Regions from separate parts of the Homo sapiens genome. Here region 1 is linked to region 2. Evidence: fine-mapped expression QTL. A gene starts in region 2. The other region holds a variant in brackets. All regions are shown on one strand. Distances are from middle to middle.

Region 1 (5,371 bases), 21 kb after region 2:
CATAGATACTATGAATGTGCTATGCCAGTAGTTACATTGCTGTATTCTATTAGTAGCAACATGAGCTTTGGACCTGAAGCCGGACTACAGTCCCAATTTCAATATCTCCCAATATTAGGGCCTTGCTGACCTCCAACTTTTGAGGACCTGTTTGTTCCGTTTGTTTAAGATAATTTATTATTTTTTCTTTTTGAGATGGAGTCTCGCTCCGTTGCCCAGACTGGAGTGTAGTGGTGTGATCTTGGCTCACTGCAGCCTCCACCTCCAGGGTTCCAGCAATTCTCCTGCCTCAGCCTCCCGAGAAGCTGGGATTACAGGCATGTACTGCCACGCCCAGCTAATTTCTGTATTTCTAGTAGAGATGGGGTTTCACCATGTTGGCCAGGATGGTCTCAAACTCCCAGTCTTAGGTGATCCGCCCGCCTCAGCCTCCCAAAGTGCTGGGATTACAGGCGTGCGCCACTGCGTCCGGCCAGATGAGTGGTCTTAACATCAGCCTCACACACTGCTGTTTCCCTTCAAGGAAGGGATGGCCACTGTAGATCTGTGAGCCTGATGCTGTGCACAACGGCTTGAAGACCCCAGGGCTCAAGACCCACCCAACGCCACACATATAAAAATGACAACCATGCATGGTGGCAGGCGTATAGTCCCAGCTACTGTGGGGGGCCGAGGCAGGAGACTCACTTGAACCCAGGAGGTGGAGGTTGCGGTGAGTCAGATCATGCCACTGCACTCCAGCCTGGGTGACAGAACGAAAGGAAGGGTACTTGCAGAATGTGACCGAAGGGTATAAACAGAGCAGGCCTTGGCTACCAGGGAAGGGGCCGCCACTGGCACTTCCCAACCTGGCTCTGCCATGGGCAAAGCTGAGTAGTGTCAGACAAGATGGGCTCTGAGCTTCTGGCTTGTGCCGAGGTCAGGGATGGTTGCTCTGTCGACCTCACGGGCAGGGATGTAACCTCTCCTGGTGAGAAGGATGTGTTCTTCCTCTCTTGGCACAAGGAGGTCATAACCAGTAAGGGACCTTCGAAAGCCTTCCCAGAACTGGCTTCTCTCCCATGGCAGGGAGCTGCAGCTGCAGGGTTTTGTGGACACAGTGACGAAGCTGAGTGAGAAGAGCAACAGCCAGGTGGCATCTGTCTATGAGGACCCCAACCGCCTGGGCAGGTGGCTCCAGGTAACACCCCACCTGGGAACCCACCTGTCGGGGAGGGGTGGGGAGACTCAGCATGTGCCACCTAAGAGGAACTTCACAGGCTTCTGGTTAACCTTAAAGACCGAAGCCTTGATAGGGGCGGCCCTGTTCTTAGGACTTCAGTGGAGGCTCAGATGAGGATTTGCCTGAGTCATGGCCACTAAGGAATAGTTAGAGTCCAGCCTCCTTCCCATTCCAGAATGGACACGTGTTCAAGACCACAGAACCCTAACCCCCAGGCCCCGGAAGGCTCTGATACCTTTGGCTAAGGCTGTGAGAGCTGGGCCACTGCCCTGGGGTCCCGCCTGACTCTGGCACAGCACCAAGTCTAGAGCCCCGGTCAGCCTTCGGTTCTAGAGCTCTGTCCTCTGCAGATGAGTGATCATCACATGCTAGGCACGCCATCCTGAGCACCAGAGATAAACTGGAACATATGCTGTCCCATGTTAGCAAGGATAGAACTTTTAAGTGCTATGAAATTTAGACAATGAGATGATACAGTGATTCATTAGACCAAATGAGGCAGTTTAAGAATAGTTGGGAAAATCTGCAAATGAAACTTAAGGAAACAAGGAGCTGGCCATGCAGAGATTTGGGGCAGGGGTGGCCAGGATTAAAAGGAGTTCCTGGCCGGGTGCAGTGGCTCAAGCCTGTAATCCCAACACATTGGGAGGCTGATCACTTGAGGTCAGGAGTTTTAAAACAGCCTGGAAAACATGGCAAAATACTGTCTCTACTAAAAAAATACAAAAATCAGCCGGGCATGGTGGCGCGCGCCTGTAGTCCCACCTACTCTGGTCACTGAGGCAGAAGAATCGCTTGAACCCAGGAGGCGGAGGTTGCAGTGCACCTAGATCACGCCACTACACTCCAGCCTGGATGACAGAGCGAGACTGTCTCAAAAGAAAAAAAAAAATCTGGGGTTGTGCTTGGAGGTCTTGAAGAAGGCTGATGCAGACAGATCACAGTGAACAAAGGTGAAAGGCAGGGCTACCTCCTGGTTAAGGTACCTTTTAAGCTAAGGACAAACAAGAGACACTCAAAGCATGAATCGGGAATGAAAGGTTATAGTTCAGGTTTTCAAAAGACCCCTCTGGCTAAGATGTAGGGAACAGATCTTAAGAGTAGGCAAGAATAGAAGCGAAACTGGAAGGCATCACAGTGGCATAGGGTGGAGACACGGTGGCTTCCTGAGTGGCACCAGCGCAGAGCTGACTCAGAATGTAAGCCAGTAAGGCTTGTTAATGGATTCTTTACGAAAGAAGAAAGGAAGAATCTGGATGCTCAAGTCTTTTTCGCCCAGACTGGAGTGCAGTGGCGCGATCTCAGCTCCACTGCAGCCTCTGCCTCCTCCTGAGTAGCTGGGATTACAGGCATGAGCCACCATGCCTGGCTAACTTTTTGGTTTTGTTTTAAGTAGACTGTCTCACCATGTTTCCCAGGCTGGTCTTGAATTCCTAGGCTCAAGTGATCCACCCACCTTGGCCACCCAAAGTGCTGGGATTGCAGGCGTGAGCCACCACACCTGGCCATGGATGCTCAAGTCTTAAACCTGAAGAGTAGGGGAGAGAGGGATCGGAGAGCCTTCAAGAAGGGGTGATATCTGAGCTGGGTGTTGAGGGTTGAGCAGGAGTTGGCAGGAAGGAAGGGGGTTCTTACCGTACCTTTTCCGTAAATGGGGTCCGGGGAGATGTGTGACTGGCAAACAATCTGTCTTCCTCTCCATTCCAGGATGAGATGGCCTTCTGCTACACCCAGGCTCCCCACAAGACAACGTCCTTGATCCTCGACACACCTCAGGCCGCCGATCTCGATGAGTTCCCCATGAAGTACTCACTGGTGTGGAACTTGGTTTGGCTAATCTGAGCTCAGTCCAATCTCTCAGGCCTGGGGCCTGCCTAGAAATAATGGGGCACCAAGTGGGGAGAGGGCCCAGGTGGCCTCTG[AG/A]GGGGGAGGGGACGTGGAAGTCTACCTGAGAGCCTGGATTTAGGGATAAGACTGGGGCCTAAAGCCATCCCCTACTAACACCCCTTCCCTGGCTCGGTCTCTCCCCCAGAGCCCTGGTATTGGCTACATGATCCAGGACACTGAGGACCATAAAGTGGCCAGCATGGATTCCATTGGGAACCTGATGGTGTCCCCACCTGTCAAGGTCCAAGGGAAAGAGTACCCGCTGGGCAGAGTCCTCATTGGCAGCAGCTTTTACCCCAGGTGAGCCACAAAGCCAGACGCCTCCAAATGAAAGGAAGGGACCATGGTCGTTCCCCTGGCCCCGCCTGCTTCCCATAGCACCTCAGCAGGTCACACACACTGGACCATTTCTTAAACTGAAGACATTTGAGCTTTTGATTCACGTGGGAGACTAAAGATGAGAATAAACCATTTATTCTTTGATTCCAGGGTTTAAACTGAAACAAGTGAAATTTGGTCCACCAGGATGTCATTTCCAAGAGATATGTGGTTGGATTTCTTGGTGGCCATAAATCCAAAATGATACTTGTGCCCGGGCTTGTCTGTCTAGAAACACTAGGCTCTGTTCTGAGTGGGGTCAGAGTAAGGGATTCGTAACCAACACATCCGCTATGGACCGGCCTCTTTCACACAACGGTCAGAGGCCAGCTCCCTGGAGGCAGCATGACACCAAGTGGCGGGTGACCAGCCCTGGGCCACACTGGCTCAAGAGCTGTTCTTTCCATCTTCCTTCTAGCGCAGAGGGCCGGGCCATGAGTAAGACCCTCCGAGACTTCCTCTATGCCCAGCAGGTCCAAGCGCCGGTGGAGCTCTACTCAGATTGGCTAATGACTGGCCACGTGGATGAGTTCATGTGCTTCATCCCCACAGATGACAAGAATGAGGGCAAAAAGGTCTGCTTTGGGGTCTGGAGAAGGGACATCTGACCCTTGCCTTCTGTTGGGGAATCTTGGAAGATTCTGGAGAGAAAACTGGCTTTTTCTTGTTTTTTTTTTTTTTTGTTTGTTTTTTGAGAGTCTTGCTCTGTCACCCAGGCTGGAGTGCAGTGGCGTGATCTCCGCTCACTGCAACCACTGCCTCCCGGACTCAAGCAATTCTCCTGCCTCAGCCTCCTGAGTAGCTGGAATTACAGAAACATGCCACCACACCTGGCTCATTTTTGTATTTTTAGTAGAGATGGAATTTCACCATGTTGGCCAGGCTGGTCTCGAACTTCTGACCTCAGAGGATCTGCCTGCCTCGGCCTCCAAAGTGCTGGGATTACAGATATGAGCCACCATGTCCAGCTGAGAAAGCTGGCTTCTGACCCAAGTTCTGTTTCCCAGGGCTTCCTGCTGCTCCTGGCCAGCCCCAGTGCCTGCTATAAACTGTTCCGAGAGAAACAGAAGGAAGGCTATGGCGACGCTCTTCTGTTTGATGAGCTTAGAGCAGATCAGCTCCTGTCTAATGGTAAGGGAACTCCCTTTCCACAGAACAGAACTGGGGTCTTCCTTTTTCCAGGGGTCCTTTCTACATAGCCATTCTGTCACGCTTGGCGTAAAGGATGCCAGGGAAGCACAGAAGCTGTTGGAATTGCCATATTAGAACGTCTTATTTCTGGGCTGCTCTAGTGGTACTACAACACAAGTAGACCAGATGTTCTGGGATGGCCTGGAGGCTGTTTGGATGTATTTGAAGGGGGACTCACTTAGTACATAGGTGGCCCCAAGTGGGGGGAAAACGGGTGTTAACAATGCTAGTGCCTGGATTTATTCAGGGCATGTTGGATTAAGTATCTAGGGACTGGGACTTTGTGGGTCTCCTGGTTACATTAAGGAAACACACAGGTGGACAAGCAGAGGTGGTGTGGCTGGTGCCATTGCACTTCTGATCTAAAGGCTGTGGGAGTGGGCTGGGCATGGTGGCTCACACCTGTAACCCCAGCACTTTGGGAGGCTGAGGCGGGCAGATCACCTGAGGCCAAAAGTTCGAGGCCAGCCTGGCCAACATGACGAAAGCCCATCTCTACTAAAGATACGAAAATTAGCCGGGCATGGTGGTGCATGCCTGTAATCTCAGCTACTCGGGAGGCTGAGGCAGGGGAATCGCTTTAACCTGGGAGGTGGAGGTTGCGGTGAGCTAAGATCGTGCCATTGCACTCCAGCCTGGGCCACAGAGCAAGACTCCATCTCAAAAAATAATAAAGGCTGTAGGAACCCAGAA
Region 2 (5,371 bases):
TCCCCAGTCAACCCGTCTTCTCCCTCCAGCTGCCTCTGGCCGCTTGTGCGTGAGGGTGGGTGAGCCCTTTGGGATGAGTCTCATCAGAGCCTCTGCACGCTGAGTGCTTCCTGCCTGCTTAATTTTGCCACTTTCAATCCAACCAGAGGGGCATTTTGGGTCTTGCTGACCAACCCCCTGCCTCCAAGAGCAACTAAAACAGAGACATCCTTGAGAGTTGTGTTGAGTGCTTAAAACCTCCAGGGAGGGAATTTTTTACTGCAACTTGCAAATTTAGCCAGCCTGGCTGACCGAACAGGCTTCACTCAGTACCTCATCTCCACCTCCTATGCTGGGTACACCTGGGTGCATATTAGAGCAAAGGCTGAAAACAAATGTTTATATTACAGTACAACCCTATGTAAAATACACAGCTGTACAAAGGGGTAAGGCTGCTTTTTACGTACTGATACAAAGAACTTCTCTCCAGTATAACTATGAAGTGAAAGAGGCAAGGTATGGAATACTGGGTGGCACATACTACCGTTTATATAAGAAGACAGTAGTAGGAGGAGAGAAGAAAAGAGCAAAAGCGCCCCGGACATAGTAGGTGTTCAGCAATTCTAGTGGAGCAAATGACTAAATGACCTCCTTGTCCTTCCTCAAAAAAGATAACCCAATGGGCTTCCAGGGGCATCTCCACTGAACTGAAAAGTTTGTAATTGTAACCAAGCAGCTTAACTTTGAGCACATTTTACAACTTTTCTCTTTAGTCTCGAGATGTAACCTCGAAGGAACCTGCAGAAGCCTTTTTCCCTTAACCTTAAAATAGACTCCACGTCCTTCCCTTTCTCACCATAAAGCCCCTTCAAATTTATCTAACTGTATGCTAGTATTGGAGGAGGAAGAGAAGAAGAAAAGGATACACACACATATTTACTTGGTCATGCATAACATTTATTTGGAAAGACATATAAGAAACGGGTAACACTGTCACTACCTCCACCTGCAGGTGGGTAAGGCACAGGGCAGGAGGGAGACTCTGAACTTGGAATCATGTGACTGTGGTACCTATTCAGGAGTAAGCATGACCCAGCCTGGGCAACATAACAAGACCCCATCTCTGCGGAAAAATGTAAAACCATTAGCTGGGCATGGTGGTGCACATCTGTAGTCCCAGCTGCTCAGGAGGCTGAGGTGGGAAGACCACTTGAGCCTGGGAGGTCAAGGCTGTGAACCATGATCACGCCACTTCACTCCAGCCTGGGTAACGGAGTGAGACCCTGTCTCAAAAACAACAACAAAAAAAAACTCAACCCAAGCTTAAGACATGAAATGAACACAATTTTAAAGTCAGTTATGTAAGTTCCTTGTGCCAGAGAAGGGTTCCTATTTCTTTGCTCTGTGGGCTCCGCTGAGATGAGTAGCAGCTGATGACCCTGGCTTGATGTATTCATTCCACTAACACTTGCTGTGCCCCCACCCCCACCGACACAGCTGTAAGCAAAGAGCTCACCTTAATCACTGGGGGTTGGGATGCAGGTTCCTGGACCACACCCTAGACCTTCTGGGCCCAGGAATTTGCAATGTTAACAAGCACCCTTGATAATTTTTGAAACCACCAGAGGGTTAATAACCACCTAGTCTAGGCAGGCGCTGTGGCTCACGCCTGTAATCCCAGCACTTTGGCAGGTCGAGATAGGAGGATTTCTGGGATCAAGAAGTTCGAGACTAGCCTGGGCAACATGGCAAAACCCGGTCTCTACAAAAAATACAAAAATCAGCTGGACATGGTGGTGCACACCTGTAGTCCCAGCTACTTGGGAGGCTGAGATGGATCACTGGAGCCAGGTAGGTTGAGGCTGCAGTGAGCTATGATTGCGCCACTGCACTCTAGCATGGGTAGAGACCCTGTCTCAAAAACAAAACCAAACCACCAGTCCAGCACTTTGCCGAGCTCCTTCGTCAATTTCCAGGAGACACACACCCTAGAACTGAGACCCCAGAGCCTGGGCATGCTGCCACACATTGCCATCCTGACTGCTACCATCAACTCCTCCCAACTGCCCTCTGCAGGTATTTGCCCCGACAGCTTCCAGCTGAGTCCTCCAGCAACATGGCCAAGTTGATCACTCCAAGGCACCGACTTCCCAGAGCCCCTCCTCTTCCCAGCTGAAGGCCACAGATGCCTAAGCAACCGGCCTCAGACTCCCCTGGCCTGCAGCTCTGCAGGCACGAGGTGCCTGATAAATTGGTGATGAAGGGGTTCTGATGCCACCTGCTCCCCAGACTATCAGCCACCAGGAAGCTCTTAGAGGGAAAATCAGTGACACCTGGGCAGCTGCTGACCCCTCCCCTTCTTAACAAGGGGGTGGCCTGCACAGGCCTGGACTGTATAACAGGGAAGGGCAGGGTGAGCCCTGGGGCGTCTGAGGCTGCTGTGCTGAGTGAGGGCTGCGGTGCAGGCCTGAGGATGGTCAGCGTGGAGGGCCGAGCCATGTCCTTCCAGAGTATCATCCACCTGTCCCTGGACAGCCCTGTCCATGCCGTTTGTGTGTTGGGCACAGAAATCTGCTTGGATCTCAGCGGGTGAGATGCTGGGAGCTCTGCCAGAGGTGGCAGGCAGACAGGCAGGCAGGCCTGGGACCCAGTCCCCTTGATCTGGGAGTTGGGGGTTACTTCTCTAGCCTCACTATCCTGCCCCATCTTGGGAAGCCTTGGGTCTCTAGTGGGGGGCCTCCCAGTTCCAACCACGCAGAATTCTGACTTAAATCCTGCCTCTGCCCTGTAGCAGCTGCCATGGACTCTTAGTGAGGCAAGGGCCTTGGCCTCTCTGTTCCCCTATCTGTGAAACCATGGGGACGCTGGCCTCGGGGGGCTGTGAGGAGCAGGCCAGGGAGACTGCTAGATGCTGGAGCCTGCAGGTGGAGGTGACTCAGCAGGGTCACAGTACAACTTCCTGAGTCGCTTGCCCTGATCTTTTTCTTTATGGGGATCCTTTGTGGCTCCCCCCTTCTTGGGAATTGGGTGCTTATTACTAAGATGTAGCTGTGGTAACTTCTGCAGTGTCGGTAGCGGGATGGGGTTTGGGCTGGAGCCCGTCGGAGAGCAAACACAGGGGTCCTTTGGGAGGGGGTGGGTAGGAATAAGGACCCCAGACCACTCTGCCTCAACACCCTAAGGAGAATGAGGATTCGGGAGCCGTCCCCTCCCCCATGCCAGTCATCTCCTAGGCTGAGAAGGTGTTTGTGCCCTGACGCGTGTCTCTTACCGGGCAAACCAGGTGTGCCCCCCAGAAGTGCCAGTGCTTCACCATCCATGGCTCTGGGAGGGTCTTGATCGATGTGGCCAACACGGTGATTTCTGAGAAGGAGGACGCCACCATCTGGTGGCCCCTGTCTGATCCCACGTACGCCACAGTGAAGATGACATCGCCCAGCCCTTCCGTGGATGCGGATAAGGTAAGCCTCAGGGGAAGAGGTGAGGGGCATCTCCCGGGGTGGGACCTAGCACAGCCACTGGGGCTTCCTCCTGGCTGCAGACGTGACTCGAGCCTGGGAAACACGTTGTTTTGCACGTCTGATCTCATCCAGTGTCTGCAACAGACCAGTGGTGTGGGCACTCCATGACCCCATTTTACAAAGAAACAGAGGCACCTAGCGAAGGTGCCCTGCCAAGTCAGCAACCAGCAGGACTGGGATTTATTTTTTATTTTCATTTATTTATTATTATTTTTTTTTTTGAGTCTCACGCTCATTGCCCAGACTGGGGTGCAATGGCACAATCTCAGCTCACTGCAACCTCCACTTCCCGGGTTCAAGCAATTCTCCTGCCTCAGCTTCCCGAGTAGCTGGGACTACAGGCACCCACCACCATGCCCGGCTAATTTTGTATTTTTAGTATGAGACAGGGTTTCACTATGTTGGCCAGGCTGGTCTCAAACTCCTGACTTCAAGTGATCTACCTGCCTCCACCTCCCAAAGTGCTGGGATTACAGGCATGAGCCACCACACCTGGCCTACCATCACTTTACATATGAGGAAACTAAGGCACAGAGTGCTGTGTCTAAACCTAAGTAGCCTACCTAGAGTGGGATAGACCCAGGATTTGAGCTTGAGCCCAAGGGTGTATTCTCCCCTGGGTAAGCTGTCTCCCTAATGGGGTGCCTATGTTGGGGAGGTTCTCCTGTGGTAGAAGCAGGTGGCTCATTCAGGGCAGGAGTGTTCAACCTTGGTTGCAGGTGAGAACCACTGGGGAGCTAATAACATCAATACCCAGGCCACACCCCCTCTACCAATTAAACCTGAGGTACCAATGGAACCTCAGGGCTAGGATCCTGGCCGCTGGTTTAAAGCTCTCCAGGTGCACCCAGTGCGGGGCTGGGGGTGAGAACCATGATGGAGCAGTTCAGGACTGGGAGAGCTCTCCCTCCCTCCCCCCACACCCTACAGGACCTACTGGAGATGTCTGCTGCAGAGGGGTAGGTACACACACCCACCTGCGCTGTGTGCCCAGGGCAGGCAACTCCCTGAGAGGCAAGTAGTGGACTTAGGTAGGAACTGAGTGTCTCTGGCCAGGTGTGGTGGCTCATGCCTGTAATCCCAGCACTTTGGAAGGCTGAGATGGGCAGATCACCTGAGGTCGGGAGTTTGAGACCAGCCTGGCCAACATGGTGAAACGCTGTCTCTACTAAAAATACAAAAATTAGCCAGGTGTGGTGGCAGGTGCCTGTAATCTCAGGTTCTCAGGAGGCTGAGGCTGGAGAATCGCTTGAACCCAGGAGGTGGAGGTTGTAGTAAGCTGAGATTGTCCCACTGCATTACAGCCTGGGCAACAAGAACAAAACTCCATCGCAAAAAAAGGTATCTCAGATAAGAATGGAGGCCACGGTGGGTGCCAGTGGAACTCCAGACTACCTGAGAACCATTCTCTGCCCAGGGCTCGGCCTCCAGGACCCTCAGGAGTGGCCAACAAAGAACCTTGAACTTAGAGGACTAAAGCTTCTATTTAAGGATGGGGTGGATCTGTCACATGCTCTGGCCAATGGTTGGGTCTCTGGTTCATGACCAAGACCTTGTGGTCAGGGTCAGTGGCTGGAGGGCAGGTCTCTTTCTAAAAGCATAAAGTAGAGGCTGGTGTGGGACACAGTCCCACAGTTGGGACTGAGTCCCAACGCTGCTTCTTCACCTGGGTGTCCTTCTTAGTGAGCAGCTTAAGCCACCAGAGGCCTGTTTCCCCACCGTGCACCTTATGGAGTAGGACATGGGACCCCAGGAGAGTGGGTTTAGCAGGGAGGATGTATAGTGTGGTTTCAAGCTTGGGCTCTAGAGCCAGGCAGCCTGTTTCTTAAATCCCTTTGGGATAAGTCCCTTGATCACCCCGCCATCAGGGA

Alleles and levels. Positions count from the first base shown, and alleles are read on the strand shown. Sizes are in standard deviations (SD) of each study's normalised expression.
With allele A in place of AG in region 1, the expression in memory regulatory T cells of the gene that starts at base 2,403 in region 2 is lower (large effect, 1.2 SD a copy in Schmiedel 2018).

What was found. PIP is the estimated chance that this variant, and not a neighbour inherited with it, causes the effect.
Region 1: its variant is the best candidate, but not a certain one, in a credible set for the expression of PADI6 in memory regulatory T cells (Schmiedel 2018, PIP 0.58).

The regions. Positions count from the first base shown.
Region 1 is chr1:17,391,046-17,396,416 of GRCh38, forward strand. PADI6 (peptidyl arginine deiminase 6) reads left to right here. Exons shown (of 16, transcript NM_207421.4): 9 at 1,069-1,180; 10 at 2,930-3,037; 11 at 3,255-3,409; 12 at 3,906-4,062; 13 at 4,495-4,618. Among named protein-coding and RNA genes, the nearest start is that of PADI6, 22 kb to the left of the region's middle. RefSeq lists an enhancer at 2,676-3,875. The variant AG/A (reference allele first, on the strand shown) is at 3,145.
Region 2 is chr1:17,369,794-17,375,164 of GRCh38, forward strand. It overlaps PADI6 (peptidyl arginine deiminase 6), which reads left to right and starts at 2,403. Exons shown (of 16, transcript NM_207421.4): 1 at 2,403-2,568; 2 at 3,263-3,440. The coding sequence starts at 2,453.